3 separate regions of the Homo sapiens genome follow, and all the other regions are linked to region 1. Evidence: fine-mapped expression QTL. A gene starts in region 1. Each other region holds a variant in brackets. All regions are shown on one strand. Distances are from middle to middle. Region 1 holds the start of CIITA (class II major histocompatibility complex transactivator). Region 2 overlaps CIITA (class II major histocompatibility complex transactivator). Region 3 overlaps CIITA (class II major histocompatibility complex transactivator).

The links.
Region 2: its variant is fine-mapped to the expression of CIITA in whole blood (TOPMed, PIP 0.95).
Region 3: its variant is fine-mapped to the expression of CIITA in whole blood (INTERVAL, PIP 0.97).

What each region holds. Positions count from the first base shown.
Region 1 is chr16:10,874,029-10,882,028 of GRCh38, reverse strand. CIITA (class II major histocompatibility complex transactivator) reads right to left here and starts at 4,827. Exons shown (of 20, transcript NM_000246.4): 1 at 4,647-4,827. The coding sequence starts at 4,698. RefSeq lists enhancers at 2,204-2,283, 2,854-2,973, 3,054-3,103, 4,524-4,573, 4,614-4,693 and 2 more.
Region 2 is chr16:10,920,951-10,931,746 of GRCh38, reverse strand. It overlaps CIITA (class II major histocompatibility complex transactivator), which reads right to left. Exons shown (of 20, transcript NM_000246.4): 17 at 9,497-9,580; 18 at 9,257-9,340; 19 at 8,422-8,519; 20 at 1-7,869. The coding sequence ends at 8,444. It overlaps DEXI (Dexi homolog), which reads left to right. Exons shown (of 2, transcript NM_014015.4): 2 at 2,188-2,856. Among named protein-coding and RNA genes, the nearest start is that of DEXI, 16 kb to the left of the region's middle. RefSeq lists an enhancer at 1,075-1,124. The variant C/T (reference allele first, on the strand shown) is at 6,981.
Region 3 is chr16:10,906,513-10,914,512 of GRCh38, reverse strand. It overlaps CIITA (class II major histocompatibility complex transactivator), which reads right to left. Exons shown (of 20, transcript NM_000246.4): 11 at 6,364-8,000; 12 at 5,326-5,484; 13 at 4,254-4,325. Among named protein-coding and RNA genes, the nearest start is that of DEXI, 32 kb to the left of the region's middle. RefSeq lists an enhancer at 2,056-2,105. The variant G/TG (reference allele first, on the strand shown) is at 3,481.

The sequences.
Region 1 (8,000 bases):
ATTAGAATACTATTCCGCCATAGAAAGGAATTACACATGGCACGACATGGATGAACCTGGAAGACATTATGCTAAGTGAAAGAAGCCAGGCACAAAAAGACAAATATCACGTAATTCTATTTATAGGCGGTGTCTAGAGTAGCCCAAAACATAGAGACAGGAAGTTGGAGTTACCACGAGCTGGGTGGAAGGGGCAGTGGGGAGTTATTGCTTATTGGGTAGAGTTTCAGTTTGGGAGGATGAAAAAGTTCTGGAGATGGATGGTAGCGGAGGTTGCACAACAGTTTGAAATATTTAATGCCACTGAAATGTACATTTGAAAGTGGTTAAAATGGTAAATTTTATGTTATATGTATTTTACCATGATTTTACAAAAAGAAAACTTTTTTTTCCATGTATAAACGGAAAAGCAAAACCAAACCAACAGTATCACTTGTGGTTGAAAAAGAAACAATGTTACTAAAATAATCTCAGCTTCTTTACCACTTTGTTAAAAAGAAATCTTAGCAAGCATTAGGGCACTGTCAAACATCAGGGAAAATCAGAGACTTTGTCCTTGATGTCAGAAGGATTGAAGGAATCTGAAAACTATCTATGTCCTTCCTATGAGAATCGGTGGTAACTAATGCCCCTTTCTGAACTGTCTTTTGACTGTGTGTGTCTTGGTCTTTGGAAACCTCCCATCTGCCTATGCTTTCCTCTCTGACTTTTTTCTCTCTCTTTTTTTTTTCCTGAGACAGTCTTGCTCTGTTGCCCAGGCTGGCGTGCAGTGGTGCAATCTCAGCTCTCGGGTAACCTCCACCTCTCGGGTAAACTCCGCCTCTTGGGTTCAAGTGATTCTCGTGCCTCAGCCTCCCAAGTAGTTGAGATTACAGGTGTGCACCACCATGCCCGGCTAAAACACAAAAAAGTGTTTTAGTAGAGTTGGGGTTTCTCCAGGTTGCCCAGGCTGGTCTTGAACTCCTGGCCTCAAGCAATCCACCCGCCTCGGCCTCCCAAAGTGCTAGGATTACAGGTGTGAACCACTGCTCCCGGCCCCTCTCTGATCTTTCTAAACAATCCCTTTAGGATCTATAATAATTATTCCCAATGCATGAATATTCTTTGGTGGTTTTCTAAAGTGCTTTTTCTGTACACATCAGACATCATCAAGCAAGCTCTCATGTTTTATCCATTTTACAGATGAACCTCAGAGAGGGGAAGTCACTTGTCAGTGTGACTCAAGGCAAATCTGAGGCTAAGTCCAGAAGTTTCCTACCTCCCTCCAGCCACTTCCCTGATTGCCTGGAACTAATCCAGAGTTTCCTTGGGTTAATTTCTGATTCTGCTCTTCTCAAGGTATCTGAGGCTGGGTCTTAGGACATGAAACCAAGCCCCAGCCATCAGACAGACTGGGTATCAACAGGTTTCTCTCTGACTGCCTGGGACCTGCCCTGCATTTGTGGAGGTTCACATCTGCTTGCTGCACTGGGCTGGGCTCTCAGTAGACCAGGGTTCAAATCCTGCGTCTGCAAACTGCTTGCTATGTGGCGTTAAGCAAAACAAAACAAAACACCTCCTGGTACTCCTTTTCTGATAGAGGTTTTGTAACAGGGAGAGAGTAAAGAGATGAGACCACATCAGCGCCTCCCAGTGTCTCTGACTTGAGGGACTTTTGCCCCACAAACGAACATTGGAGTCACCTGGGATAGATGGTTTAACCTGCAGGATCTCAGCCTCACCCCAGGCCTAGCCAACCGGGCCTGGGGGTGAGCCCGGGAACCTACATCCTGAACAGGTTGATCATCCCAGGTGATGTTCATGTGTGGGGAGCCTGGGATTCCCCACTCAGTCATCTCCAAAGACCCTGCCTCCAAACGCTCTGAGATTGTTGGAGACCAGGTCATCCCCTAAGGGAGCCGGGGGTTTGCAAGGTGATCATTTGTTGGAGTCAAGTTCCTTTGGCTCCTCTTTCTCCAAGAGGAAGAAGTACCTGTTTCCTTAATCTCACTCCGGAGAAGTATTTATTTATTTTTTCTCTGGAGTGGGGAGCAGAAACGGAAGACTTCCTGCCAAAGTTAGACACTCCAGGCTGCGGCTGGGGAGGGAGCCATGCCTTGAACTTCTAGGCTTTTGCCACCTCTCCTGTGCCACCTAGGGTGGAGAGGGGCTGTGGGACTCAGGAGGACCGCGGCTTTTAAGAGTTCCAGACTAAGCTAAGCATGGTGGCTCCGATTCCGGCTTTCCTGGACCCCAGGGAGATCCAATCTCCCACTCCCACCCCGGCATTCGCACGCTGGCTTTCCGGGGCGCTTTAGCCTCTCTCCTTAGAGGGTGTGACTCAGGGCCCCAAAGCGAGGTAGAGAAGTGAGAGATCAAGAGATCGGTTCAGTCCGGGGGGATCCCTCCCCCACCCCTCCCAACAACACACACCTTCGCCAAGATGTTCAACGAGAGTTGAGGACTTATCCCATCCTCTGGTTAAAGGTTTGGCTCCCTACTGCCTCCCTGAGCAGGGCCCCCCGCCTGGAGAGCCCAATACCCAAGATTCCAGAGTTAGAGATGGAATATGACCCAACAGGGAAAGTGAAGCTCAGGGAACGGCGGCCCTGGTCCAAAGTCTGGCGTACAAGAAGGGCGCGCACCTCTGCAGGATCCCGGGCGCGCGGAGTCGGCCAAGGGTGGCCGGGGGAGTGTGTCTGCTCCGCGCTCCCAGTCTGCGCTCCGGCTTCTCTGCAGAAGCTGCCGCCAGGCTTTCCTGCCACCCGCCCACGGCCCCGGAGCTCTGGGCACAGCAAGCCAAGCTCCGGGTTCCCGGCTCCTGGTTCCCGCGCAGAGTCGTTGCGGGGATGCTGGAAACGAGGTGTTTCCCGGCCCTACATTTTGCATATTCCATCCCCCCATCCTCCCAGACTTGCTGTGTGACCTTGAGCAAGTAGCTGACAGTCTCGGAGCCTCGATTCTCAGCCCGACCTTAGGGGTTACAGAGGAGACTTTGGTCACCTACCGCTGTTCCCCGGGCTCCCGCGCGCGCTGCTGGTGGCCTCTCCCTCCCGCCAGCTCTGGGGCCGCGGCAAGTCTGTGGCAGCTCGTCCGCTGGTCATCCTACCTCCCCGCCTCCCCGCAGTTCTTTTTCCCTTTCACTTTCTTTCTGCAGCGCTGAGCTCGGGCCAGGCTGTGGAGCAACCAAGCACCTACTGTGGCCACCACGTGCTTTATCAGAAGTGGCATCCCAACTGCCTGGGGCATCCAAGAGGTCCCTGCCTCCAGTCGGTTCCTCACAGTGGCCAGCCCCACTTCGGGGAGAGTCCCAGGCCCCGGGCCAGGAGCCAGGAGCTAGGGAGCCACTTGGGCAAGTGATCTGCAAGTCCTGAGTTGCAGGGAGCTTGTCCCCACCCCTGGGTGGGTCTCTGTTTCTCTCCAACTCAGTCCAACCGTGAAAGTGGCAAACCACCTCCGAGGGCACATGGCCCCTGAGATGAGCTAACTGAGCTATTCACTCCTCTGATGCTGGCCCTAGGGAGGAAGAGAAAATCCCTCAGGTACCTTCCATGGATGGAAAACCTGTGTTACCATGACCACACCCCCAGCCGTGGCAAGAGCCCTGCCGGTCCTTTTCAGAGGTCTTGGATTCCTGCTGGGTCCTCCAAGGCATGAGACTTTGAGGTGGTCACTTTCCCTTTTCAGGCCTGAATTTCCTCATCTGGAATTGAGGGAGGGGGCAAGGTTACCTCTGACTTCTCCCCCTCCAACACTTTCCCGTAGCAACTTAAGGCTGCACCCAACCACACCGGCAGACCTGTCATCAGTCTCTGGGTTCAAAGCAAACCATACATTTCAGGGGAGTCTGAGAAAAGGGATACCACCCCTTTAACCATCCAACAACAGCAATGCCAATAAAATTGAGCTCCTATGAGCTCAATTCCAGTTCCTATAAAATATTGGACACTGTGCTAGGTCCCTCATCATTACCCTTTCATACAGGCTTTCCCACAGGTCCATTGTACACTCCAGGAAAATTGACTCGAGAATGTAAACGACTTCTTCAGGGGCACACCCTTCCCAGCCAACGGTGTAGCTGCCATGCTGCCTTCAGAGCCGGTGCCAGGTGTCTGCACTGTGCTCTTCCCACCATCTGTTCCCCCGTCCCCTGACCCTTTTTAAACAACACCATTAGGAAACTGGGGGGAGGGCAGCATCCGCCAGCTCTCCCCAGCTGCTGAGGGCTCAACAGCTACACCTCAAGGCTGACTCCAATTTTGGTTTCCCTGCTTCTCTGGGTATGGAGTGGAGTCTGGCAGAGGTCCCGTCCTGCAGAGGCACCCCTCAGTATTTACCCAAAGGGAGGCGAGAAGACCTTGCTGTGGGCCGAGCCAGGCCAGCATGCTGAGAGTTAGTGACACACTGCCCGAAAGTCTGACTTCTAGAACCTTTCGGTGCTGATACATGGTTCATACTCCAGACACCTGGCTGACCTGAAGTCTCCCTCCGGTGGAAGGAAATAGACAACTCTTTCACATCTTCCAATGGCCTGCCCCAGCAGGACACAGACTCCTGTTCCCATCCTCACCCCCATCCCCAATTCAGAATGGTTTCTCTGTTTATCTGGAATGGCAGGACCAGCTGAGACTGCACGCTAAATTAAGATGCTTTCCCGGCCTTTTTACCTTGGGGCTCTGACAGGTAGGACCCAGCAGGGCGTGGAGCCAGGCAACGCATTGTGTAGGAATCCCAGCCAGGCAGCAGCTCCCGGAGTCTGGCAGCCCCTCCTCGTGCCCTCAGCTTCCCCAAGGATGCCTTCGGATGCCCAGCTCAGAAGCACACAGCCTCATCACTAGCCTCATCACTAACCAGTCACCAGTTGGGAGCCCGCCAAGCTAAGCCAACATGCAAAGAAACAAGTGAGGGATCATCAAAAAAACTCTCCCTGCAAGGTGGCCCCAAGCGGTCAGATTTCTGTTTCTGAACACCCTCTAATTTTACCACACTCCCTTAAGCCCTCCCCACACCTCTGAAATTAATTTCACTTCCTTACTGTGGACTGAATTTGGTGAAGACAGAAAGTTGCACAGAAAGTCTGTTGGGGGAACCTTCAACAGTCTGACGTTCAGAAATGATGATCACAATGGAACCGCACTGGTGCCAGCTGCCAATATCTGCCACCTTCTGCAGGATGGGGCCAGTATCATAGCCCTCCGCCCAGATGCCTCAAGACAAGCTGAGAGCCTCTGCTGGGGACTTCTTAGATGCTGCTCTCCTCTACCATGCCTACTCCCACACCAAATTGCCCTGAATTTCTCTGGAGATCATAAGTGGCCCACCTGTCATTTTCATCCCAAGACATTGGACTAAAACATAAATTATACCAAAAGAGTGTTAACCCAAATATGGTACCCTTGTAGTCAGATGGTTTGGGGTGACCCGCCAAAGTGATGCTAAATAATACTGACTCCCATAGGGAGAAAGTTAGTGTCTTTTCCAGTCTCTGCCCATCCTCCTGGTGGTATCAAGGAGGAAGTCTCAGCTTGGTGTGAACATGTCTTTAACACCTCTTCTAATATATGATCACTCTGTTTTATAGAAAGCAGCTCTCTAGCCTCAGAGCCTTCTACAGTCAACAGTATCTTGCTATAATCTAACATCACTCTGCTTTCTTGTTAAATGGTTACCTCCTGTTTTTGCCATTTTTTCCCTTTATAATGGGACGTAAAGTTTTATTTGAATATAAAGTAGATGGCTGGGCCAGGTGGCTTGTGCCTGTAATTCCAACATTTTGGGAGGCCGAAGCAGGAGGATTGCTTGAAGCCGGGAGTTGGAGGCTAGCCTGGGCAACATAGTGACACCCTATGTCTACAAATTGTTGGGGTTTTTTTTGTTTGTTTTTGTTTTTTTTTAGACGGAGTTTCACTCTTATTGCCAGGCTAGAGTGCAATGGCATGATCTTGGCTCGCTGCAACCTCCGCCTCCCGGGTTCTGGGTTCAACTGATTCTCCTGCCTCAGCCTCCCGAGCAGCTGGGATTACAGGCACCTGCCACTATGTCCAGCTAATTTTTCTTTTCTTTTCTTTTTTTCTTTTTTTGAGACGGAGTCGCGCTCTTTCGCCCAGGCTGGACTGCAGTGGCGCTATCTTGGCTCACTGCAAGCTCCGCCTCCTGGGTTCACGCCATTCTCCTACATCCAGCTAATTTTTCTACAAATGATTTTTTAAAAATTAGCCATGTATGATGGTGCACAACTATAGTCCCAGCTACTCTGGAGGCTGAAGTGGGAGGATCGAGTGTGCCCAGGAGTTGGAGGCTGCAGTGAGCTATGATCATGAAATACACTCCAGCCTGGGCAACAGAGTGAGATCCTGCCTCTCCTAAAGAAAAAGAAAAGAAAGATAAGTAAAAAAGGTGAGTGGTTAAAAAAAACCCTGTCATAAATAATAGTAAAGTGTTATGTGGAAAACACAAAAATGATGAAGGTGGTACTGAAATGAAGGTTTGGAAACATGACTTGTGTGCCTCATGCATTTTTGCTGAAAGAGCACTGGACGGGGAACTTAGTAGCAGGTGTGTGACCTTGGCCTCTTTACTTCCTCTCTGTGGTCCTCAGTTTCCCCATGTGTGAAATGAGGATGATGCCCTTCTTTGTAAGGTGATTACTTTGAAGCCTTCACTGTTTTCAGAAGTCCCCGGGTGAGGAGTGGGGTAGAAATTGACAAATAAGAAATGCTGAGTCAATTTGAAACAGCCTTGCTTAGTGGGGCTAACAAACGGATATGGTGAATGTCAGAAATTCTAAGAATGACCAGGCACAGTGGCTCATGCCTGTAATCCTAGTCCTTTGGGAGGCTGAGGTGGGCAGATCATTTGAGGTCAGGAGTTGAAGACCAGCCTGGCCAACGTGGCAAAATCCTTTCTCTACTAAAAATACAAAAATTAGCCTGGGCGTGATGGTGCGTGTGCTACTCGGGAGACTGAGGGATGAGAATCACATGAACCCGGGAGGTGGAGGTTGCAGTGAGCTTAGATAGTGCCACTGCACTCAAGCGTGGGTGACAGAGTGAGACTCAGTCTCAAAAAAAAGAAAAAAAAAGAAAGAAATTCTAAGAAGTCTCATTATCCTATGACCTGGTGCCACGGGAGAGGCGCCTCTGACTGCTCAGCTGTCTTGAGGTCCCATATGGGGGTCCCTTTATGTTCTCAGAGACAGCTGGTTCTGATGTCCCCCCATCCCACCCTCAGACCGATGGCCAAGGCAGCTTTGGAACTTAGAATGGGCCAGCCAGGACTACCATCTCTCACCTGGGTGACTGCAGCTGCCTGGTACATCTTCCCTGTACCAGAGGTTCGTTTCAGTACCACCTTCCTCATCTACATCTTCCCTGACTCCTCCAGACCCAGTTCTTGTCCACAAGACCTGAACCTGACCATGCCTGTGTCGGTGCAGGTCTCTGAGCAGAGCAAGTGACATCCGTCAAACTGTGTGTTTGACTGATGGCAGAGGATGCACTTTGGCACCTGAAGGCACCAGGGTAGAGAGTCTACAGATGAGTGGCAGTGGTACCCAGCCAGGAGCTGAGGCACACCTGGATTTCAGCTGTGGCAGGTGAGGGTGTGGGGATGGAGAGGGAGGGGGCCGGATGTCTCAGAGGCAGAATGACAACCTCTAGCACTGAGTGAATGGGGGCAAAGAGCACGAGGAGGAATGAAGCCCACCCCAGGCTTCCTCTCTGTTGAAACACCTGCATCCTTGTTCCTGCCTCTTAAAGACTCCTGCAGGCCGGGCGTGGTGGCTCACGCCTGTAATCTCAACACTTTAGGAGACTGAGGCGGGCGGATCACCTGAGGTCAGGAATTCGAAACCAGCCTGGCCAACATGGTGAAACCCTGTCTCTACTAAAAATAGAAAAATTATCCAGGTGTGGTGGTGCACGCCTGTAATCCCAGTTACTTGGGAGGCTGAGGCAGGAGAATTGCTTGAACCTGGGGGAGGTGGAGGTTGCAAGTGAGCCGAGATCACACCACTGCACTCC
Region 2 (10,796 bases), 48 kb before region 1:
GCGAATTTTGTATTTTTGTTTGTTTGTTTTTAGTAGAGACGCGGTTTCGCCATGTTGGCCAGGCTAGTCTTGACCTCATTTCGCCATGTTGGCCAGGCTGGTCTCAAACTCCTGATCTCAACTGATCCACCCACCTTAGCCTCCCAAAGTGTTGGGATTACAGGTGTGAGCGACTTGGAAAAGAAAAACTATATTACTACCAGAAATGGAAACTTGGCATCACTTGCTATAAATAGAAGGTAACCCTACAGATAAACACAATGAAAACCGGAGTGTTAGTAAATTCCACGTGTAGCCCATTCAGACTGGAGATCTGCACACAAGAGGGCAGCTACAGCCAGACTAGCGCCTGGCTGGGACTGTCGGGGATGCGGTTTGTGGTCACAGGACTGGGAGAGGAGTGAGGTCCTCACCGAGTGATTCCATCTTCTCTTTTTTTTGAGACAGGGTCTCTGTCACCCAGGCTGGGTGCAGGGGCACAGTCATAGTTCACTGCAGCCTTGAACTGCTGGGCTCACGCAATCCTCCTGCCTCAGCCTTCCAAGTAGCTGAGACTACACTATGCCTGGCTAATTTTTAAATTTTTTATAGAGACAGTCTCACTGTGTTGCCCAGGCTGGTCTCAAACTCCTGGCCTCAAGTGATCCTCCCACCCCAGCCTCCCAAAGTGCTGGGATTACAAGCATGAACCACTCTATCCAGCTGATTCCATGTTCTCTAACACCCTATCCACACAAATCTGAGATGGGCTCAAGGATGACCACAGGCCTTGGAGATCTCTGCAGTGAGCATCTGTGCGGCTGAATCTGAGTAAAGGATTCTGCTTCAGGCTGCTGGCCAGCAGGTGTCTCAGGAGCAGGCTGGTGGAGGGCAGCTATGGAGAGACATTAGCTCTGCCTGCACTTACAGCCTGAGGACCAAGCAGGCTCTGGAGGCAGAGAAAGGCCTCAGCAAAGAAGGGCAGGTCGACCTGCAAGGAAGAGTGAGTGGAGGGAATGGGGCGGGGCACCCACAGCCTCTGCTAAGGTCTCATGGCACTTAGCAGGGTCCTCAGCGTCTGCTAAGAGCTCAGGAAATGGTACCTGCTCTCATTCAGACCGTTTCCATCGTTATTACCAAGCCAGTGCCAGCTTTGCCTCTCATAGCTGTGCATCTTTAGGCAGGTTACTTGGCTTCTCTGAACCTCAATTTCTTATCCTATTAAATGATAAGAACCTCAGTTTCTTATCCTATACGATGCATGGGTCTCAATGGAAACAGTTCCGCCCCCTTAGGTCGACCTTGGAAATAGGGTAGGAGGGCATTTTTAGTTGTTCCAGTGGCCAGGGGTGCTACTGGCATTTAGTGGCCTGGAGCCAGAGATGCTGCTAAATGCTCAGTGCCCAGAACAGCCACCCCACCTCCAAGAATTGTCCTACCCCAAATGTCAATAGCACCCTGTCAAACAACAATACATGTCACATGTTTAACATACAAGTTCTGCGAGATGTTCAGTGAAGTTTGCGGAAAGGATAGTGAGCTGGGAGATGAGGCTTGGAATCAGAGCAGGGCTTGAGGGGGCTGCAGAGGGGTTGGGCATGGGAACACGAGGTGCTACAGAGACACTGGCACCCGGCTAGGCACACAGAGAAGGCAGTGGGAAACGGGGACGTGCCAGGGGGCCAGGCCATGGAGATGATGCTGCATCCTGGGAGAAAGAGCCAAGTGGGGCTGCTGAGTAACTTGGCTGTGGCTATTGCCTTCCTGTAGGTTGCAAAGCATTTTTCCGGGCAAGGTGGAAGGTGTTGCCAAGCCCTGCCCACTACCCAGCGCTGGCTCAGCTGGCCCAGAGCTGCAAGTCAGCCCTCAGACCCTGGGTGACTCCTGAGCAGGCTGCACCAGCATCCCCCTCCTCCCTCCCAATAAACAGGACAGTCCTTCCTCTCCCGTGTGACATTGCACTGGTTCTCCAGCCCAGGGTCTCTGAGAAATTAGGCAAATTCATTAAAAAGAGTTTTATATTTGCAGAAAGACATTTTCAGCCTGAGTCTGGGGCTCCCAGTGGTTCCCTAAATTTGAGGGATGGAGGAAGACTTCCCTGCCCCACCCCAAGCCTCCCGAGCCTGGTGGATTGGTCCCTGTCCCCAGCCAACCTGGTGGCAGGGTGGGGCTTCCGTGCTAATAACCCCCCTTTTTCCTTCTTGTTAGACCTGCTCCCCTCAAAAGCTTCGTGCCAACAGAGAGGTTCCTGTTTGAACCCAGGAGAGTGGAAGAGAGATTGGGACTGAGTGCTGAGGTTGGGAAGGCACCTGCTCCCACAGAAGGGGGAACGCAAGAGGCATCCCAAGACCTCATCTGCCTGCAGTGTCAAATCGATGGCCTGGCCTTGGCTTCTGATTATTTGCAGCTGCGATGGATGTTTACAGGAACCCAGCCAGAGTTTGCCTCCCTGCACTTCATCCCGGAGCGCACCTGCTTCCCCCACTTCACCTTCGGAGAGGACACTTCAAACTGCGGACACACGCAAAAGCGACTCCCAGCTCCGTTTGATGTGAGTTGAGCCTTCAGGCCAGCTGGGTTTAGCCCGAGGCTGGTCTTAGATGCAGCGACTGTTTCAGGGGTGACTCAGAAGAAAAAGAAGCTGAGGAAGCTGTTGGGGGGCTGAGGGTGGGATTCTCGCTCCTTCATTTCAGGTTACTCGTTCTTCAGCAAGTTGGCAAAACAGACATCATGCTGGTGAGTGCCACGTTACTCCCCTGGCTGGAAATGCTTTTCTGAAAGTATGAGTGTTGTGCCTACTTAATTCTGATAAACCTGTCTAAGCAATACTTAGGAGGCTTACTTCTTTGGATTAAAAAAAAATGTATGCAACTCCAACCCCTGGGGCCCTGCCTTTTTTTTTAACTTTGAGATTCGGGAAAGGAGTTCTAGGCAGAACCTTGTGGCTGACAAACAGCAGAAGATCCAGTGGGGTTGAGAGAGTCTGCCCCAGTCGGGCTGGCGTGAAAGTCCCAGGCTGGCCCCCTGCCCCACTCCACAAGCCAGGGACAGCATTTGGGGTGTGGTGGGAAAAGCCTGAAGGCCAAGCTGGAAACCAGGCCTGAATCCCATAGAAGTGGGGGTGGGTATCCCCTGTGTCAGGCACATGGTAGACCTTCATTAAAGATAGGGGGGAAGGGCTTGGCATGGTGGCTCATGCCTGTAATCCCAGCACTTTGGAAGGCCGAGGCGGGCAGATCACTTGAGGTTAGGAGTTCGAGACCAGCCTGGCCACCACGGTGAAACCCCATCTCTACTAAAAATACAAAAAAATTAGCCAGGCATAGTGGCGCACACTTATAGTCCCAGCTACTCGGGAGGCTGAGGCAGGAGAATTGCTTGAAACCAGGGAGGCAGAGGTTGCAGTGAGTTGAGATCATGCCACTGCATTCCAGCCTGGGCAACAGAGCAAGAGAGGGATTAAATGAGTGGAATTGGGAGCTTGTAGTTTCACGGAATACAAGCAGTAATTCTCTCCAGTTTGCAGAGCACTTGATTTCAAAGCACCTTCACATACACACCAAGTGAAGCAGGGTTCAAACGATTGACCCCTTTCTACAGGCGAGGAGACTGAGGTGTGGGAGAGTACAGGCGGCAGAACTCTGGGGGGAGACAGTTGGAGCACCACTTGCCCTCAAGTGATGCTAAAGAAAGAAAAGCTACGAAATCTGAAAAGAAGACATTTGAGAGCCCCAGGGAAAAAGGTGAGCGTCAGGAGGGAGACATTTGTATGCAGAGAGAGGCCTGCGAGGAAGAGTGACCATTTGGAAGGTGCGTGGACTTACAATCCACTGGACATGGAATTGCACTATCATGCCCTGATTCCTCCGAGCAGCGCTTTACCACCTGACAAATGGGGTTCAGGGGCACTTCCGGCACACTGTGCCTGTCCCTGCAGAGAGGTCCTCCAAAGAAGTCAGAAGTCCATTCCTTTATAGGAGTGTGACTATAAGTATCACTTAGATCTGTGACACGGAGACAGTAATTTATCCACATCTTACGATGACTGTGCGTTAACTACGAAAAGATGCCCCTCTGGGTTAAAAGGCTCCACACCAGGACTCCCAGTTTGGCAAGCAGAACCCAGACTGGTTTGCAGCCCCCATGTTCCCCCTTGTCCCAGGTGCCTTTGTGCAGTGTACAGACTGGCCAACCTCACCTGGCAGCCCTGTCCAAAGAGTTTTTTTAATTTGCTAAAATATAAGACTCACCAGGGCAGGAACATCTTATTCATGACTGTGCTGTCAGTATGTATTTGCAGAATGAATGAAACCGTTAGGTGAGGATTATTTGTTCATTTTATGTTATTGAGCACCTATTATACACAGGCGCCTTGCTGGGTACAGAGGGCACAGCAGTGTACAAAGCGAGATGTTTCCCGCCCTCCTGGAGCTCATGTCCTAGGACAAGAGCAGACTGCATAAATAAGTGAAAAAGATAAAACTAGTGATGGGGTTGGAGAATGGGGCAAGTCCCGAAGGATGAGAAATCAGCCATATGGAGAGCTGGGAAGAACATTCCAGCCAGAGGCAAGAATGAAACACAGATATATGTAATAATGACAGCCAACATGTTATTGAGCTCCAATTCTTAACGTATTAGCTCACCACACCTTCACATAATCCTATAAAGAAGGTGCTGTGGTTATGCCCATTTTACAAATGAGGAGACTGAGGCACAGAGAACTAGCTTGCATAAGTAAGTGGTGAGGTGGGCGTTGAGCCCAGGCAATCTCGTTCTAGAGTCTCTGCCACTTGCCCCTAGACTCTTATCCCTCTTGAGTAGGAGTTTAGCACAGTGTCTGGCACACAGTCATCACTTATTGAGCTAATACTTTCTGAGCGCTTTGAATTTCCCTTGCACTGTGATAAGGGCTTTGCATGTATCTGCTCATTAAATAAACAGTAGTGGCCGGGTGCGGTGGCTCACCCCTGTAATCCCAGCACTTTGGGAGGCCAAGGCAGGCAGATTACCAGCCTGGCCAACATGGTGAAACTCCATCTCTACTAAAAATACAAAAATTAGCCAGGCGTGGTGGTGCATGCCTGTAATCCCAGCTACTTGGGAGGCTGAGGTGGGAGAATTGCTTGAACCCAGGAGGCAGAGGTTGCAGTGAGCCGAGATCATGCCACTGCACTCCAGCGTGGGCAATAAGAGTGAAAACTCTGTCTCAAAAAAATTAAATAAAATAATAAACAGTAGCTATCATTAACAAATCGTTAGTGTTAATAACTGCAGGCTCTGACCTCATTTCATCATCACACAGACCAAAAGCAGTGGGTCAGACCAAAAACCTGGCACATGGCACAGTGGATGATCAGAGCACACCTTAGTGCTCACTCCTGTAGGCGCACACACAGGAGGCCCATGGCCTCTGTAGAGTCTGCAAGTGCAGGGATCCCTTGCAGGGTGACACCTGAGCTATTTACAAGCTGAACCTGGATGGCAGCACCTGATACCCTTTGCAGCCAGTTCGAGGCAGGAGGTGCTTGCCTGTCTGCAAAGATCATCAACCACGCAGCCGGGTCTGGATTCCTCAGACCCTCTTGACACCCAGCTCTCACTTGCTGGGGAGAGGAGCAGAGCTTGGGAATCAGACTGATCCTGTGGGCACTGGGGCTGGTGAGCTGGAGCTGAACAGGCAGCTCCCACTGCCACCAGGAGTAAGCTAAGATGTCTTGAATTGGGGCTTCTGAGCAGACTATGCCCGAGTGAAAAGCAACAGTCGTGCCGGCAGCTCGCTGGGTAGAAAGCGGAGCTTCCAAGTCCCTTTCGGACTCCCTGCAGCCAAGGTGGGACTCCGTCTCCGCTAAAAACCAGCTCACTCCCAGGACAGAGCTGTGTGTCAGAGGCAGAGGCAAACATTCCCCTTGGTAAGCTTTTGGTGCTTCAACCTTTCTCATCCCCAAACAATTAATTTTCCACTGAATTTTAGGAAGCCACAAAGAAAAGTCCTCTCAGAAAAGAGGACTTGAGCCAAGGTGGGCTCTGGTGTGTGCACGCGTGTGTGTGTATGTGTGTGTACGTGCACACACGTGCATGTGCACATGTGGTGAAAGGAGGGTGGGTAGGACAGTAGCAATCCTTGTCACACTGGCCAACAGAATATGGCAGAAGTGGGCTGGGTGTGGTGGTTCACACCTGTAATCCCAGCACTTTGGGAGGCTGAGGCAGGAGAATCACTTGAGGCCAGGAGTTCAAGACCTGCCTGGGCAACATAGTGAGACCCTGGCTCTACAAAAATAAAACTAAAGATTAACTGGGCTTGGTGACTCACACCTGTAGTCCCAGCTATTCGGGAGGCTGAGGTGGGAGGATCACTTAGCCCAGGAGGTTGAGGCTGCAGTGAGCCGTGATCATACCACTGCATTCCAGACTGGGCGACAGAGTGAGACCCTGCCTCTTAAAACATATATATGTAGCAGAAGTAATACTGTGTGACTTCTAAGGCTAGGTTATGAAAAGTGGTCTCTCTCTATCCCCTCCTTTCTTTTTGGGACACCCTCCAACCCAGCCACCATACTATGAGGAAGCCCAACTAGCCCACATGGAGGGGTCCTAGCCAACTATTCCGTAGTGGCACTGAGGCCCCCAGCCAACAGCCAGCATTGCCTGTCAGACGTACAGAAGAATGAGTCTTCAGGTGACACCAGCCCAACCCTCAAGCTGCCCCACCTGACACAGAGTAGGACAGAAGGAGCTGTCCCCGCTGAGCCCTGCTCAAATGACAGATATGTGAGCAGAATAAATGTGAGTGTTGTTTTAAGCCACTATGATTTGGGGTGGCTTGTTACATATTAGATAACCAGAGCAGTGGGTACCCCAAAATGGTAACAGGGTATGAACTCAAACCCTGGACCTGCCTGTGACATTAAAGAGACATTTATAATGTAGTGAAAAAAGACACAGGAAATGAAGCTGTGCTTCCAGTCTGTTCCCCTCTCACCGCCCCATTAGTGTCC[C/T]ATTAGCTGTTTCCCTGCTAAGGGCTGGTGCATCTGGCCAGGCCTAGCTTTGGCTTTGGCCAACAATGTCAGTGCATTGAGTCCCATAGACAAAAGCAGCTGCCACTGAAGCCCAGCCTGTTGCAATCTGGGGAATTAGCAGGCTGGGGGTTGCCCATCAGTGTCTTCTGAGTGCCCGGTGTGCCCTGTCAAGGTGTCTGGTCGGAGAGCAGGGTGGAGAAGTACTTTCTCTGTGGCCCGGTGCAGTGGCTCACGCTTGTAATCCCAGCACTTTGGGAGGCTGAGGTGGGTGGATCACCTGAGGTCAAGAGTTTGAGACCAGCCTGGCCAACATGGCAAAACCCTGTCTCTACTAAAAATGAAAAATTAGCCAGACATGATGGTGGGTGCCTGTAGTCCCAGCTACTCGGGAGGCTGAAGCAGAAGAATCGCTTGAACCCAAGAGGCGGAGGTTGCAGTGAACCCAGATCGCACCACTGCACGCCAGCCTGGGCAACAGTGAGACTCTGTCTAAAAATAAAAAAAAAGAAGTACTTTCTCCCCAGGGTGGCAGGGGCCTGGGCAGGCAGAATGGGGCTGCCTCTGTCACTCCCTCTGGCCTGGCCGTGGCTGTCCGCAATGTCCTTCAGAGAAGGCCTCGGGGCTCCTGGGTGGACCGCAGCTGCCACCAGGCATCCACCCAACTGGGCGCTAAAGGAGCCTGGAGCCGGGCCTGTGTCTGTCAGCAGAGCAAGATGTGGTTCATTCCGCAGCCGGGCAGGGGCCAACCCTGAACCAGCAGGGGCCGGGTGCCAGGATGCTGAGGCTCATGGGATACAGCCTGGAGAAGAGCTGTGTCCACAAGTACCCAGTTCAAGGTCCAGCGTGGTTAGTGTCCTCAGAGAACATGCTGTAGCGGGAGGAGCCAGGAGAGGGGGTTTAGGCAGGACACTCTAGGAGGGGCAGCTTGACACCTGGGAAGGGTGCTATCAAGATGGGGGGATGGGAGGGGCAGTGGAATGGAGGTGGACGTGCAGCACAGTGCGGGGAGCACAGGGCTGGGGGACAGTGATCTTCATAGTGAGGAGCAGGAGACTTGTCAAGCAAGTTCATCTGAGACAAACCCGGAGCATCAGGGCAGCCACCAAGCCGAAACAGCAGCTGGGAAGGCTTGGAGTCCCCAAAGGAAGCTCTTCCAAGCACTGAGGCTGTGGGATGTGGATGGCCAACTTTCCTGTCCCCTGATCTCTAAGCCTGACCACAGGGACCAAGCTCGCAAAGCCTGGAGGACAGCTCCACCGAGCCCAGGGTGGAGATGAGGGGATGTCTCTGATGACGCATGCGTCCAAGGGTGGTGGCCTAGCCCCACCTGTGTCCCGCCCACATTTTTTGAATGCCACCTTCACAAGGACACTGCCCCCAACCCACTGCGGCTCTCCCCTCCCAAGCCCACCCTGGTTACCCTGTCCAGAGCACAGCTGGGATCATCTCAGGCTGATCCGTGAATCCTGTTGTTGCAGGTGTTCCTGGACACTGAATGGGATGGTGGGCGTCCACATCCTGCAAGGGGGGATGGGACTCAGAGCCAGGTTAGAGGAGAGAGGGCGGCCTGGGGCCCCAGTGACAGCTGCCCCCAAATCCCTCCTTCCACCCAGCCTAGAACGTTGGGGACTTTTCCCCTGGCAAGATACCGACCGGTGTGGGTCATGGGGAAAAGGAGAAGCCTAGGAGGCCCGAGATTCCTTTATGGTTCTGCAGCTGACTTGCTGTGTGACCCCAGAAAGGTTAGTTAACTGCTCTGTGCTTTATTTTCCTCATCTGTAAAATGGGTCTTGTAAGACCCACCCTGTGCGTCTTAGAAGAGGTGAGTGATTGTGGAGATAAAAGTGCTTTGAAAGAATATAAAGTAACCAGTATTGGACATCATGGTGACTTAATAAAAGATAAACCTGAACCATATGAAATTGCCAATTTTACAGGTCAAAAATGGGTGGATGTCAGCAATTTCATATGGTTCAGCCTAATATAGCATTTATTGGCATTTTTGTGTGCCAGCTACTGTTGTTATAAGAGCTTTGTAGGGCTTGATTAGTTTAAGCCTCACAAAACCTCTTGGGTGGATATTATTACTGTCCCCACTTTACAGATGAAGAAGCTGAAGCCAGAGGGGGAAGTGTCTGCTCACCCAGGGTTGCAGATTGGTGAAGGGAAGAGCATGATTTGAGCTCCGGGGTCACACTGGGCCACACGCCTGGGGAGTGAGTTGTTCTCCACCCACCAGGGTTGCCTGGACTTACGCCAGCGTCTCCACATGAGGACACCTCCGAAGGCTGGCAGCGAGCTGCTGGGCCCCGGCAGCCGTGAACTTGTTGTACTGGACGCTGGCAAGAGAAACTCACCTTGGGGCCTGGCCCTTGGGACTCCCCAGCTCCAGACCAAGGCCACCCCCACATCCAGCTCTTCCAGGACACCAGGGAGAGACTTCAGTGTCTCCCACCCCGGGCTGAGCCACCCACCGCCCAGACTCCCACACTCACTCCATCACCCGGAGGGACACCATGTCCGGAAGCACACGAGCCAAGCTCTCGGCTCCCACGTCGCAGATGCAGTTATTGTACAAGCTGTCGGAAACAGAGGCCAGGGGGAGGGATTGGAGGCCTGTGCATGGTCAGCCTTCCAGAAGCCACCATCCCTAGATTCCAGAAAAAGCCTGGTCCCACTATCCCTGGGGGAAGGAATCAATATTTATTGCACAACAGAGCCTGGCATTGTGCCAAGTACTTACATAGGCCATTGGGATGGTTCCCATTTTCTAGATATGAAAATAGAGGCTAGGAATGAATAAGTGACTTGCTCAAAGTTTCTGTCCCCAGGTCCCACTAGTTCTCTTGTTCAGGGCTGTGGTGATTGCTTCTAGGATCTCAGTGTCCCCTGCAGCCTGGAGGTCAGCCCCGTGGGAGTCACCACCTACTGGGATTACTGCCCCATTTTAAAGACAGGCAAACCAAGACCCAGAGAGTTGAGACCACTTCTCTGTGGTCAAACAGTGAGCCCAGGAAAACAGCAGGACTAAAAGGAAGTCATTTCTTGCCTTACTGTGTGGAAACTGTCAGAACAACTTCCCAAGTTCAAATCCCAGCTATGCCTCTTACTGCCTATGTGACCTTGGGCAAGCTACTCAACTCTTCTGAGACTCAGTTTGCCCATCTGTAAAATGGGCATGATAGAGTCATTGTGGGGAGGAGTAAATGAATCAATGCTGATATAACATTTAGAACATGCCTTGGTGCCTAGAATGAACTAAATGTTAGCTATGGTTCTGACTACATCACAGGAACATTGGTGAGGGTCGCATGAGTTAACATAGAGGGTGTGACCAGCACTGGGGGCAGGAAGAGAAAAAGCCAGTCACTGGACCAGCTCCAGTTTCTGCAGCATATTCACAACCAGCATTAGTAGCAGTGAAAATAGCATGATGAGTGTCACTGATGCCAACTTCAGCTGTTTACTCGACACCAAGCAGCCTTTTAACAGGTCAGGTGCTGCTGCGGGTATGATTTCAGGGCCATGACTTTGCCATGATTCAGCCTCAGAACTCCCTTGCAGGGCTGCATATAAAAGCAGCAGGTGCAGTGGCTCACGCCTGTAATCCTAACACTTTGGAGGCCGAGGCGGGTGGATCACCTAAGGTCGGGAGTTTGAGACCAGCCTGACCAACATGGAGAAACCCCGTCTCTACTAAAAATACAAAATTAGCCGGGTGTGATGGCACATGCCTATACTCCCAGCTACTTGAGAGGCTGAGGCAGGAGAATTGCTTGAACTCGGGAGGCGGAG
Region 3 (8,000 bases), 32 kb before region 1:
TTCTTTGGTAAAATTATGGTGCCAGCAGTGGGTATTTTGTTGTTATTTGTTTGTTTGAATGAGCATCCTTGATAAACATTAAAAAACAGTAACCGCGCACGGTCACTCGAATTCATTCCGAAATGTTCTCGGCCTCTGAAATCCTGAAGTCTGAGAACACTGGCCTCAGCAAAAGGCCACAGGATCAGAGTTTGACTCCAGGATCTGGCATTTGGCTCCCTGCTAAAGGCCTTGGCAAATCCCTTCACCCTTAAGTCTTGATCTCCTCAAATATTTCACCCCAATCTTATGGGGGTTCTTGGATTAAGGCATTCGTTGTTAAATATTGACCGCTTGCCTACTATGTGCCAGGCCCAGGGAGGAAAGTTGTGGGCCAAACAGACGAAAATCCCTGCCTTCTGGGTGCTGACATTCCAGGGGGGAAGATAGACAGATAATCAAAGAAATCGGAAAGCAAGCTGATGTCTGAGACAATGAATCATATGGAAATATACAGTGGTGAGGGGGATGGAGTTTTTTTTTTAACCATGAGGGGAATGGAGTTCTATTTATTTATTTATTTATTTATTTTTGAGATGGGGTCTCACTCTGTCATCCAAGCTGGACTGCAGTGGCGTGATCTCAGCTCACCGCAACCTCCGCCTCCCGGTTTCAAATGATTCTCCTGCCTCAGCCTCCCAAGTAGCTGTGACTACAGGCACCTGCCACCATGCCCAGCTAATTTGTTTTGTATATTTAGTAGAGATGGGGTTTCACTATGTTGGCCAGGCTGGTCTCAAACTCCTGGCCTTGTGATCCACCTGCCTCGGCCTCCCAAAGTGCTGGGATTACAGGCATAAGCCACTGCGCCTGGCCAGAGTTTTATTTTTAACTGTGAGGGTCAGAAAAGACCTCACTGAGGCCGGGTGTGGTGGCTCACGCCTGTAATCCCAGCACTTTGGGAGGCCGAGGTGGGGGGATCACGAGGTCAGAAGATTGAGACCATCCTGGCTAACACGGTGAAACCCCGTCTCTACTAAAAATACAAAAAATTAGCCAGATGTGGTGACATGTGCCTGTAGTCCCAGCTACTCGGGAGGCTGAGGCAAGAGAATCACTTGGACTTGGGAGGAGGAGGTTGCAGTGAGTCGAGATTGTGCCACTGCACTCCAGCCTGGGTGACAGAGCGAGACTCCACCTCAAAAAAAGAAAAAGAAAAAAGGAAAAAGAAAGAAAGAAAGGGAAAGAAAGAAAGAAAGGAGGGAAAGAAAGAAAGAAAGAAACAGGGAAAGAAAGAAAAGAAAAGGCCTCACTGAGTAAAGACCAGAGGAGGTGAAGGCATGAGCCATGCAGATATCTGGGGAGAAGTATTCCAGGCAGAGGGCACAGCCGGTGCAAAGGCCTGGAGGCAGAAGCATGCCTAGGAGGTTGAAAGCCAGCAAGGAGGCCCTGTGGCTGGAATGGAGAGAGCACCCAGCGAGTGTAGGAGATAAGGGTGAACAGGTGAGTGGGGACTGAACTGGGGAAGGACTCTGTGTACAAACGAAGTCCCTGTAGGGTTGTGAGTGGCTAAGAACCCTGATTTGACAGACAGATGAGGTCTACAGGGTGCCTGGGCACAGTAGAAGCCTGAGAAAATGCCAGAAATAGTCTTTTCCTTCCTTCCTTCCTTCCTCAGAACCTCCTCGGGGGCTTCCGGTCTCCAGGTGGCTGATCACCCGGCTCTAGGCTGTTCCACCCCATGGCCGCTGTTCCCCAGAGCGCAGTTCCGATCTTGAACTAGGGGCTTTTTCAGCTGAAAATAATTTAAGGCCAGAAAGGGCCCTCAGTTATTGTTTTCAGACATTTCCCCTTTTCAGCATCATTTTTACCTCTGGACAAATTTAGCACCTTGTCTCTGTTCAAAACAAGAGACACTGGCTTTTTTCTGGGGCACAGGGGAGCAGTGATCAGGGAGAGCTGATAGCTTGTGGGTGACCAGCTGGGGGACCACGGGCAAGTCACTTAACCTCACCAGGCCTCCGTCTCCTCATCTGTAAAATGGGGAAGATGATGACTGTCTGTCTTCCACAGTAGCTCTTGAGATTAATGAGATTATATATAAAATGCACTGAATTATAAGCTGGGCATGGTGGCTTACACCTGTAATCCCAGCACTTTGGGAGGCTGAGGTGGGAGGAACATCTGAGGCCAGGAGTTCAAGACCAGCCTGGCCAACATGGTTAAAGCCCGTCTCTACTAAAAATACAAAAATTAGCCAGGTGTAGTGGTGTACACCTGTAATCCCAGCTACTCGGGAGGCTGAGGCAGGAAAATTGCTTGAACCGAGAGGTGGAGATTGCAGTGAGCCAAGATCATACCACTGCATTCTAGCCTGGGTGACAGAGCAAGACCCCATCTCCAAAAAAAAACAGCACCGAATATACCACAGGCATAACAACTCCTTCCTAATCATTAGATGATCTAGACCCCTACCAAGGAACAAACATTCATTTAGCTTTTTCTGTGGAAGGAGCTTAGGGCCAGGCTGACCTGACCTTTATGACTTTGGATAAACAATTTAAAGTCTCTTGTTCTCAGCATTGCCATTTGTACAATGGGGAGATGATGACAATGCCTGTAGAGGAGGGTGGCCTGAGATAATTGAGATGGAAGGTGAGCTGCAAATTTAAAAGCCTGTTCTGGCCAGGTGCGGGAGCTCGCACCTGTAATCCTAGCACTTTGGGAGGCTGAGGTGGGAGGATTGCTTGAGCCCAGGAGCTCGAGACCAGACTGGGCAACATGGTGAAATCCTGTCTCTACAAAAAATACAAAAATTAGTCAGGTGGGGCATGCCTGTAGTCCCAGCTACTAGGGAGGCTGAGGTGGGAGGATCACTTGAGCCTAGGGAGGTTGAGGCTGTGGTGAGCTGTGATTGTGCCACTGAACTCCAGCCTGAGGGACAGAGTAAGACTCTGCCTCAAGAAAGAAAAGAAAAGGAAAGAAAAGGAAAGGAAAAAGAAGGAAGGAAGAGAAGGAAGGGAGGGAAGGAAAGAGAAAGAAAGAGAATGGAAAGAAAGAAAGAGAAAGGAGAGAAAGGAAAGAAAGAAAAGAAGGAAAGAAAGAAAGAAAGAGAGAGATAGGGAGGGAGGAAGGAAGGGAGAGAGAGAGAGAAAGAAAGAAAGAAACAGAGAGAAAGAAAAAGAAGAAAAGGGGGAAGAAGGGAGGGAGGGAAGGAAGGAAGGAGGGAGGGAGGGAAGGAAAGAAAAGGAAGGGAAAGGAAAGAAAGAGGAAAGAAAGAGAGAAAGAAAGAAAGAAGAAAGAAAGAAAAAGAAAGAGAGAAGAAAGGAAAGAAAGAAAGAAAAGCTATATTCTGACAGATCTAAATATAATAATTATTGTGCTTTCTTGGGGCCCATGTATGGTGGGCTGCCCCTCCTCAGTGACCCAGACACAACTGGACTCCCTAGAGCCTTGCCTAGGTCTCCATTTCTGTCACCCCAGCAACACTGCCTAGGGTGT[G/TG]GCCCCCAGCCCTGGCCACACATAGAGCAACCAACTGTCCCAGTTTGCCTGGGACTAAGGGGCTTCTTGGGATGCAAGACTTTCAGTTTTCAAACCAGGATAGTCCCAGGCAAGTAGGGTTGCTTTTTCATCCTAGCTGCACATCAAAAGCTCCTGGGAATTTCAAAATGGGGGAAAGATTCTCCCTGGGGAGGCCATCCCTTGGCTGTGGAAGTAAACAAGCTCAGGCACAAGGGACGTTGTGCAGTTCCTGGCCACAGGAGGGAAAAGGACTCCATAGTCATAGTGGCATCCTCCTATGGAAGGTTGGGGACACATTGGGCCTTTTCTGATCCCTGGCGAAATTACAATTCCTGGAAAGCCTTTCTTACTCCCCTCTCCCCACTCAGCTCATTCCTTATCCTCACTGAAGCTTCAGTGCAGATATCACCTCCTCCAGGAAGTCCCCCTGACCTCCTCCAGAGGGGAGTTGATTAGACTGTCAGCTCATGAGGACAGCAGCCTCAGTCATTCAAGTGCTCAATACCTCTGTTGAATGAGTGATGGGAATGACCATGTTAACCAGCAAACGGGTCCATTAGCTTCAAATCTGAGAACCTCCAGCATTTGCCCACACTGGTCACTTTCCAGCTGCTGGAAGCTATTTCCAAAGTGGTGGGCAAGAGGGTAAGAATGATTCTGGAGATCTATCTCCATTCAGGTGGTACAAGCCCAGCTAATGCTGCAGGGGAAACCTTGCGCAGACCCACAAGACAATCCACCCCTTTGCTTACGCAAACTCCAGTTTCTTTAGGTCCCGAACAGCAGGGAGCTCCCCAGCTGTGTCTTCCGAGGAACTTCTCGTCCTGGAGAGAACAGGCAATGTTAGGGGGAGCAGGCACTGCTGTCACTGAGCCCTTACCCATGGGTCCCATGATGGCTGCCCCAGTGCCCCAAATTCCCCAGGGGGATTGCTTTCCTTGGGGCAACTGTTGTCCCCCTCTTAAAAAAAAAGATCTGTCTGGGTGCGGTGCCTCGTGACTGTAGTCCCAGCACTTTGGGAGGCTGAGGCAGGAGGATTGCTTGAGGCCAGGAGTTCAAGACCAGCCTGGGCAACATAGCAAGATCCCTGTGTCTACAAAAACTTAAAAAATCATCCGGTGTGATGACGTGCACCTATAATCCCAGCTACTTGGGAGGCTGAGGCAGGAGGATCGCTTGAGCTCAGGAGTTCCGAAGCTACAGTAAGCTATGATCGCACTACTGTATTCTAGCCTGGTAGACACAGCGAGACCCTGTCTTTAAGAAATAATAAAAATAAAAATAAAAGATCTCAGGACTGTATCTTTCATGGAAATGAGCCTCAGATTAGGCACTTACCAGTACCTATCCCAGACAGCACTTAAGAGGCGCTCAAACAATGTGTGATGAAGGAATGAATGAAAGACAGTTAACTTGTTCTGTAATCAAGTTTTGTCTGCCTTCTGGACCTTAGCTCTGCCGTCTATAAATTTGGGACAACAGTTGTCCTAAATGCCTCAAAGGGTGGCAGTAGGTGTCACTTCTGTTACTAGGTGCACAAGGCATCCTTGTTAACTCCTAGAAGGGGAGAGGTTCTCCATGGCTTTAGCTAAGACTTGGGCACATGATGGCAGGTTTTGAATGCAGCAAAGTTTTCAATTCTAGAGGCTCCGCCTGGGCAGCGAGTGCAGTGAGAGACTCTGGTTAGCCATTGCCCAGAAAGAGGGCATGGGGTGTCCCAGAGGACAGGGGGCACTGGAAATGCCCATGACAAACTTGAGAATGGGTCCTACATGTCCTCAACCTGCATGGCGTGAACCACCTCCCATCCGCCTCTCCTCTCACCTCTGAGTCTGCACAAGCTTTCCCAGGTCTTCCACATCCTTCAGGGACTTGGCTTTGAAAGGCTCGATGGTGAACTTCTCCTCTGCTGCCTGAAGTAGCTTGGTCTCCCCATGCTGCTGCAGGGACTCCCACAGCGCCACCGTGTCGCTCAAGGCAGCCCTGTGGAGGGAGGGCCTCAGACCCAGGCACGGTGACCAGGCTAGACCTTAATGGAAGGGCAGCTCCATGAAGGGTCCTCCTACCTATTAAAATACTTTCTTTCCTTAGCTCAACCTCTACCTTTCCCAGAAAGCCTTCCATGACCACTCCAGCCTTTATTGATTCCTACTTTCTCACAACTCACACAGTGGTTTTCTTTCCCTTTTTGCTTCGGCTACCAGGAAGCTCACTGCTAAATTATTGGCACAATTATGTAGGACCTTACAGCTTGGGTAAAGTATGTTTAGGGGGAAATATGGAAGCAATCCTCTGGCGATTAAGCTGAAATGCTCAAGCAGATTGCAGACCGACTTAATGAAACCAAATTAAGGAATTTAGCCTTCATCCTGACAGTGGTGGAGTGTCCCTGAAGGATTGTAAGCAGGGATGGGATACAATCAGATTCAAGTTCTGAGAAGATTGGTCTGGTTGCTGAATACAAAATGGAGTGGAAGAGGAGAGAATGGAGGCAGAGAGTCCAAGGGGAGGCCATGGCTTTACTCTTAGCATAAGAAAACGGTGGCGTGCTCAGGGGGTGGAAAGAATAAAACAAATTTGAGCCCAGGTCAGTCTCAGATTCTAGACATACCCCAGTGACTGGCACATGGCGGGCCTTCAAATATTGACTGGGAGAATGCCATTGCCTCTCACTTGCTGTGTGGCAAGTGGCTGCCCCTCTCTGAGCCTCAACATCCTCATCTTAAAAATGGAGAGAATCCATTCTGCCCCACCCGGCTGCTCTGCATACTAAAAGAGACCCCACAGAGCACTGGGCTTGGCACCAAGACCGCAGTTAATGCCCAACACAAGGATGTCTCTTCCCCAAGCCCCTCACCCCACCTGAAACGGGTGACACAGCTGAGTCCCACGAGGCTCCCCAATCCAGAGGGGCAAATGCCAGTGCTGCGGAGGTCCAGGGAGAAGTCTTGGCCCGCCGCCTCCAAGGCCTTGCCCAGTACATGTGCATCAGGAGGCGTGAGGCGGGTGCCCAGAAAAGAGAGGCGGCCGGGGAGCTCCTGTACCACGTGCTGCCAAATTCCAGCCTCCTCGGCCTCGTGGGCGCAGTGCAGCAGCTCCAGCAGCTGCCGCGCCCGCAGTGTCCCCGGCTGCAGCCGCTTCAGGTACCTCGCAAGCACCTTCTGCTTCCTGTCCACCGAGGCAGCCGCCGATGGCCCGAGTAGGGCTCCCAGGCAGCGGGCGGGAGGCTGGAAGATCAGCCCAGCCAGAAAGCGTGGCACGCCCTCCAGCCAGTTGTCATAGGGCCTCTTCTTCCTTGGGGTCAATGCTAGGTACTGCGGGAGCTCCTTGTCCTTGATTTCGCCACTCAGAGCCAGCCACAGGGCCCCCAGGAAGCATTGCAGGAGGAAGCTGGGGAAGGCCAGCTCGGACTCTGCGGCCCGCGGTGGGTGTTGGACTAAGCCTTTGGCCATCGCCCAGGTCCTCACGTCTGCGGATGGGAACTGGTCCTCCTGTAGGGTACTTTGATGTCTGCGGCCCAGCTCCCAGGCCAGCTTGGCCAGCTCTGCCAGGGCCCCGGGGGGGCTGTCGAGGGCTGCACGGCCCAGCAGGCCGACATAGAGTCCCGTGAGCGTGGAGGGCAGCTTGGCGTCCTCCCCAAGCTCCAGCAGGGCCTCTGAGAGCTGGCACACTGCCCGGCACAAAGTAGGGCTGTGGCTGTGACTGAGAAGAAGTGGCCGGTCCCGGAGGAGCGTCAGGGCTCTGTCTTGGTGCTCTGTCATCCCTGAGCTCTCAAAGTAGCGCATCACGTATGCCTGGGCCTGCTCCATGGAGAAGCCGGACAGCTCAAATAGGGCGTCGGCCTTGCTCAGGCTCTGGACCAGGCGGCCCCGGGGCCGGGCTGTGAGGAGGAGGGTGCAACCTCGGAGCAGCTTCTTCTGGAAAAGGCCGGCCAGCAGCCCCCGGAGGGAGCAGGGCTCCGCCGGTGCCGGTCCGCACGTGCTGTGCAGGAAGCCATCTTGCGCTTCCAGCTCCTCGAAGCCGTCTAGGATGAGCAGAACGCGGTCAGGTCTCTTCAAGATGTGGCTGAAAACCTCATCGGCCGCCACGAGTGGCTGTGGGCCCAGGGAGAAGAGCAGATCCTGCAGGCCATAGGCATCCCCCGGACGGTTCAAGCAATGGCAGGGGACAGAGAAGACAAAGTCGTACTGGGGAAGCCGGCCACAAGCCCAGGCCCGGCTCACTGCCCCAGCCCAATAGCTCTTGCCCTGACCAGCTTTGCCCAGCACAGCAATCACTCGTGTCTCACGCGGCCGCCGGTGCTCCTTGGCAGCCAACAGCACCTCAGCCAGGCCTCCTTGGGCCAGCTGCCGTTCTGCCCAGTCCGGGGTGGCCAGTTCCCGCTCCAGGCTCTTGCTGCTGCTCCTCTCCAGCCTGGCCTGCACCAGATCCACCTCCACTAGGATGCCATCCGGGCCTGCGGGCTCGGCACCATACGTGTCCTGCAGTGAGCGGTAGAA